2 separate regions of the Homo sapiens genome follow, and region 1 is linked to region 2. The links come from fine-mapping of genetic effects on gene expression. A gene starts in region 2. The other region holds a variant in brackets. All regions are shown on one strand. Distances are between the middles of the regions.

Region 1 (2,913 bases), 35 kb before region 2:
AGAAGACAGGACTGGGACAGTGGCTGGCTGAGTGTGGCGGCTCACGCCTGTAATCCCATCACTTTGGGAGGCCAAGGCAGGTGGACCACCTGAGGTCAGGAGTTTGAGACCAGCCTGGCCAACATGGCGAAATCTCGTCTCTACTAAAAATACAAAAATTAGCCCGGCACGGTGGCGTGCGCCTGTAATCCCAGCTACTCGGGAGGCTGAGGCAGGCGAATCGCTTGAACCTGGGAGGCGGAGGTTGCAGTGAGCCAAGGTCGCACCACTGCACTCCAGCCTGGGCAGCACAGCAAAACTCCATCTCAAAAACATAAAAAATAAAAATAGAAAAAGACAAAAAAAAAAAAAAAAAAAGAAAAAAATGTTTTGCAAATATTTCTCCCAGTCTGTAACTTGCCTTTCATCTTCTTAATAGGGGCTTTCAAACAGCTAATGCTTTTAATTTTTGATAAAGTACAATTTATGGTTCACATATTTTGTATCCTAAGAAATGTAACCTAAGGTCACAAAGATCTCCTGTATTTTCTTTGAGACATTTTATTGTCTTAGATCTATGCTTAGGTTGATGAACCATTTATAGTTAATATTTATATATACAGAGAATAAGATAAGGGTTAAGATTCAGTTTTTTTCCATATGGATATCCAAGCTCTAAGACCACTGATGGAAAAAGATGGTCCTTTCTCCCTCGAATTACTCAGGCATCTGTAAAAACCTGAAGTGTCCATATACTTCACATGAGTCTATTTCTGAATTCTCTATTTTCTTTGGTTAATCTCACACAGTCTTACTTGCTACTTTACAGAAGTCTTGAAGTATGACAAGGTAAGTCTTCCAATTTTGTTCTTTTTCAAAATCCCTTGGGCTGTTCCTAGATCCCTTGTATTTCTATATAAACTTTAGAATTAGCTCATCAAGTTCTATTAAGAAATTGTAGCCTGCTGAGATTTTAAGATGGATCAAGTTGAATCTACAGATTAGTTTGGGAAGAACTGACTTAATACTTAGTCTTCCAACCCGTGTGTATGGCATATCGTTCTTGGGTCTTCTTGAATTTCTCTCAGTAACATTCTTAGTTCTCAATGTACAGATCTTGCATATATTTTGTTAAATTTATCCATAAATTTTTCATCTTTTTTGATCCTATTATAAATGACATTTAAAATTCAATTTCCAATTCTTCTTTGCTAGTATGTAAAAATCCAGAAAATGGTTTAGATTTGATCATTAGTTCCAGTAGCTTTTCTTTAGTTTTCTATCTATACAATCATGCCT[G/A]CAAACAAAGTTTTATTTCTTCCTTTCTAATCTGTCAGTTATTTTTTTTGCCTTATTGCACTGTCTTAGATTTCAAGTATGATGCTGAATGAGATAAATGGAGCAGCAAGTGGTAGTTGCTCTGCCGCCTATAAGGTAGATATTTAAGTGTGACATCTTATGAATTTTCTTGTTTAATTTTTACAACAATCTTACAACGTCAGTACAATTATTTTTATTTATTTATTGAGATGGGGTCTTGCTATGTTACCCAGACTGGTATTGAACTTCTGAGCTTAAGCCAACATCTTGCTTGTCTCCTGAGTAGAGGGACTATAGGCATGTGCCACCACACCTGGCTTAAATGTGTCATTTAAAAATTCAGGCCAGGCACAGTGGCTCATGCCTGTAATCCCAGCAATTTGGGAGGCTGAGGCAGGCGGATCACCTGAGGTCAGGAGTTCGAGACCAGCCTGGCCAACATAGTGAAACCCTGTCTCTACTAAAAATACAAGAAATTAGCCAGATGTGGTGGCATGCACCTGTAATCCCAGCAATTCAGGAGGTTGAGGCAGGAGAAACACTTGAACCCGGGAGGCAGAGATTGCAGTGAGGTGAGATTGTGCTACTGCACTCCAGCCTGGGCAACAGAGTGAGACTCTATCTCAAAAAAATAAAATAAAATTCAGTTTAGAACAGGGAAAAGAAGTACATGAAGGAGAAGATAGAGAAGCATTTACCATCTAAATGAAAAAGTATACACACACATAAAATAACTTCCAAAACAAACCAACGATTAAAGAAAAATCTAACGAGCCAACCTTACTATTACAGTTTTTGCTACAATGTGGATATGGACTATCTTAAACATGTGGTACACACACATTTCTTAAGACTTTATCTTTTATAGGCTGAGGACGTAGCCTCGCTCCTATATATTCAAAATGGTAGATTCAGCATCATGCTACCTACCTGCATTTGCGACAAGCAACAGGGGCAGTCTTCCTCGCTCTATATCATCTTTAATCAGTTTCTCCAGGAAGGCAACATCCTGGAACCAAAACAAATCATTAAAAAATGAGGTGCCCAGTATAAAAGCTATAAAATGAAAAATTATGACTTACAAAAGAAGCAGATAACTCTCAAAAGTAATGTCAAATCAATTCTTACTCTTGACAATTTTTCTGTTTTCTCTCATCATAGATGTGAAAATCAAATAGTTTTCCTTGAAGACTAGAAAAATCAGTTAAACAAAATTAAAGGTAAAAACTGTACATATGCAGGAACATTTCTTTGATTTTAAACATTTACATTTAAATGAAATGTTCTCTTAACTCTCCTAAAACAGCCAAGAATGTATCTCTACTATTACTCACTGATGTACCTGAACTAGAAAATAAAACTACCTTGACAAAAGAAATAAAAAACTCTAAAATCCATCCCTTCCTTTTCCTTCTGGAATCATTAAGGAGAGATTTATCACCTGCATGTCTGAAAATAAGCAGAACTCAATTCCATGATGACAATGAAGAACCTCATTTTCAAAATCTGCCCATTCATAAATCCAGGCAACAGTGCTAACTCATTAAAAGTAGGAGCTTCAGAAGAAATTTCTGGTGCTTAATTGAGCTGCCATGTTTCTACTTAAAGCAGGTG
Region 2 (2,913 bases):
GCAGCACCTCCCTGCCCCCATTGTGACAATCAAAACTATGTCCAGAGATAGCCAAATGTCTCCTGGGGAAATAAATTGCCCCCTGCTTTAAGAACCACTCATCTGGACAAACTCAAAGTACCAAAAGGTAGACACCCTGCTAATCAGACGACCGGAAAGACTTTATTCCCAGCCAGGAAAACACGTAACATTCACCCCAGAGATGGCACAAGAAAACCATATTATCTTTTTCTTGTCTTCCACCCAATTTATGCTAAGCAACCCAGGAGTAGGCTATACCACTGTGAGCACATGAAGACATCTGGCCCAACCTTTACAATTATTGCCTTCAACTCTCCAGTGACAAGTGAACAAAATCTACAGCAGCTGCTGCCTTGAAAAAAGACAAAATATATTATTCCTACCAGCTCAAAATTAAAATGTAGCCGTCTTAAAACACGAGCATTGCTCCTGAATGCCACATGCATGAAAAACCGGGTATGCACTGGATTGGACAAGCAGACTCCCAAGCTGGAACAGACAGAAGGGCTTTGAGGGAGGGCAGAATGTCAGGTACCGAAAGCAGGAATCCGTGAAGAAACCCAAACTGGTTTCCATTTACAAGCCCTAACACTGGGACAATGAGAATCCGTTTCACATGGTAGAGCAGTCAGCCTGGTACACCACGCTGCCGTTCCCCCAAGGGGAAACCAGAGGTAGGCTCTGTTACCAGTGGATTTCGAGTTGACTCGGGGATCCCTCCTCGCCACTGGAATGGGGGAGCCAGGAAGTTGTGGAGCAGCTGCGATCCCCAAAACTCAATTCGCAATCTACGCAACACCCACCCCTTTCTGGAACTCAGAGGTTCTCGCCCGGTGATCGCAGGCTCAGCATCAGAATCACCTGCGTGGGGCGGAGTGGGAGCGGGGCGGTGGCGGTTAAACACGCAGTTCCCGGTCCCGCCCCCAGAGGTTCTGACCCCGGGACTGAACCTCCGCATTTTACCAAAGGCCCCAGGTGATTCCCACTCAGGCTGAAGTTGGAAAACCACTGCTTTGGCAATTTTCATTCCTAACTCGGAGACCAAGAAAAACCTACAGGTTTGCAGCTGGCTCTGAAATAACTGCGGCTTCTTTCCGGGAGCATCTGGGGCCGCCAACGGAGAGCTCCCGGTCCTCCGAAAGGGCCAGCCGAGCTCAGGCCGGCCACTCGCGGAACCTCGGCAGGGCCCAAGGTCGGCCCCGCGGTCCCAGTCCTGGGCTCCGGGCCCGTCGCGGCCCCCACCGAACCCCGCCCAGCCTCTTCGGCCCACGGGGACCCAAGAGACACCCGGCCCCGTGACGCGCCCGGGCCCCAGCCGCCCTCCCGGCGAGGCCTCCTCAGGCAGGGCCTGTCAGCCCGCGTCCCCCTGTCCGGGTCACAATGGCAGCTCGCGACTGGGAAACAGTTGCCTCGGAAGCGGGAGCCCCGGGCCGCAGCACCGTCCCCATCGCCCCCTCCCGGCACGGACCTTCTCCAGGGACGCGTCCATGGCTGAGGCGGCCGGTGGTGGCCTGGCGGTCCCGGGCTCTACTTCCTCCTCCCGCGCCCCGCAGCTCCTTCCACGCTGGCAGCGCTGACGTCCCCCGCGCCCGCGGCCGGCGGGGCGGAGAAGAGGAGGAGCTGCCAGGCGGCGCCGCGGGCTGCCGAACCTGATGGTTGAGAGGCGGCGGGGCGGGGCCCCGTAGCGCTGGGCGGAGCCCTCTGGGATTCCGTACCTGGGCGCCACGCCGGCCCTCCCTAACGTGCGCAGGTGAAGGGGGGAGGATGCCCGGTGGATTGTTCACCAAACTCTTTCCAGCAGCCTGTTGCAATCATCAAGGTAGAAGTATAATAATCACAAAGTACTATTCATGGAGTGAAAGGCTGGAAATACTAGTGACGCACCTCACTTCCGGGCCCAGGCTTCCAAGTCTCCCGCCTCACCTCCCGCCGGCATCCCTCGAGAATGGAACAGGCCATTCGCCAAGGAGGCGGTGAGCGAGTGGGCAACCTTGCGCATGCGCAGGACTCGCAGCGTCCTCGGCGCCCGGGGACTTGGGGGTTTTGGGGTTGGGGGCTGCTTAGTGAACGCTGTTCAGAGAAGGCACTGATCTAAGCTGAGGTGTTGTCTCAGACCTTACCGCCGAATTCTAGACGGAAAAAATTGTTGTAACAACCGGTCCAGCCTCTTTCATGTCACAATTATCACTTGTCAGGTAATGGGTAGTAGTAATAATGATAATATTAATACATCAGCTGCTGTTCTTCCATTTTCCTATTTCAGCAGCTCTAGGAGATCATTATCCCCATTTCGCAGTGCCGATCTAGGTAGGATTCAGACCCAAGCCCCATGAGTCCACATACTGCTTCCACTCCTACTTTACTTTAAATGTTTTAAAAAGTTAATTTTTTATTAATTTTTTTATCTTGTTAACCGATGAACTGAAGAGAAAAAAAATTAAAATCTCATTTTAATAGAGAAGGTAGGGGTGTCTCACTATGTTACCCAAGCTGGCTTCAAACTCCTGGCCTCAGGCGATCTTCCCGTCTCAGCTTCCCCAAGTGCTGGGATTACAGGCATGAGCTACCACGCCCGGCCACTTTTGCAATTTTACTGCAATGTGTTTCGAACGAATGGGGAGGGCGTACATTTGCTTAGTAGATTCCTCCCACCTTAATGTGGGAAACTGATATAGACTACCACAGTGGCAATCAATGGAACACTTCACCTCTGCGATGACGCTACAACCACAATCTTACTCCTTTTCTCTCCTGTTTTATACTCTTCGTCCCGAAATCTGTGTAAACAGGGTCACATTTTCAGCGCAGTAACTCCATGTTTTGAGCTATCTACGTTGTATTTGGTAAATTGCCTGGTTATGTTAATAAAATTATTTTCTACCAAAAAACCCT

What was found.
Region 1: its variant is fine-mapped to the expression of PDXDC1 in lymphoblastoid cells (GEUVADIS, PIP 0.95).

What each region holds. Positions count from the first base shown.
Region 1 is chr16:15,009,076-15,011,988 of GRCh38, reverse strand. PDXDC1 (pyridoxal dependent decarboxylase domain containing 1) reads right to left here. Exons shown (of 23, transcript NM_015027.4): 8 at 2,230-2,308. MIR1972-1 (microRNA 1972-1) reads left to right here and starts at 1,592; the gene lies at 1,592-1,668. The variant G/A (reference allele first, on the strand shown) is at 1,279.
Region 2 is chr16:14,973,797-14,976,709 of GRCh38, reverse strand. PDXDC1 (pyridoxal dependent decarboxylase domain containing 1) reads right to left here and starts at 1,684. Exons shown (of 23, transcript NM_015027.4): 1 at 1,490-1,684. The coding sequence starts at 1,510. RefSeq lists an enhancer at 1,603-2,366 and a silencer at 2,524-2,818.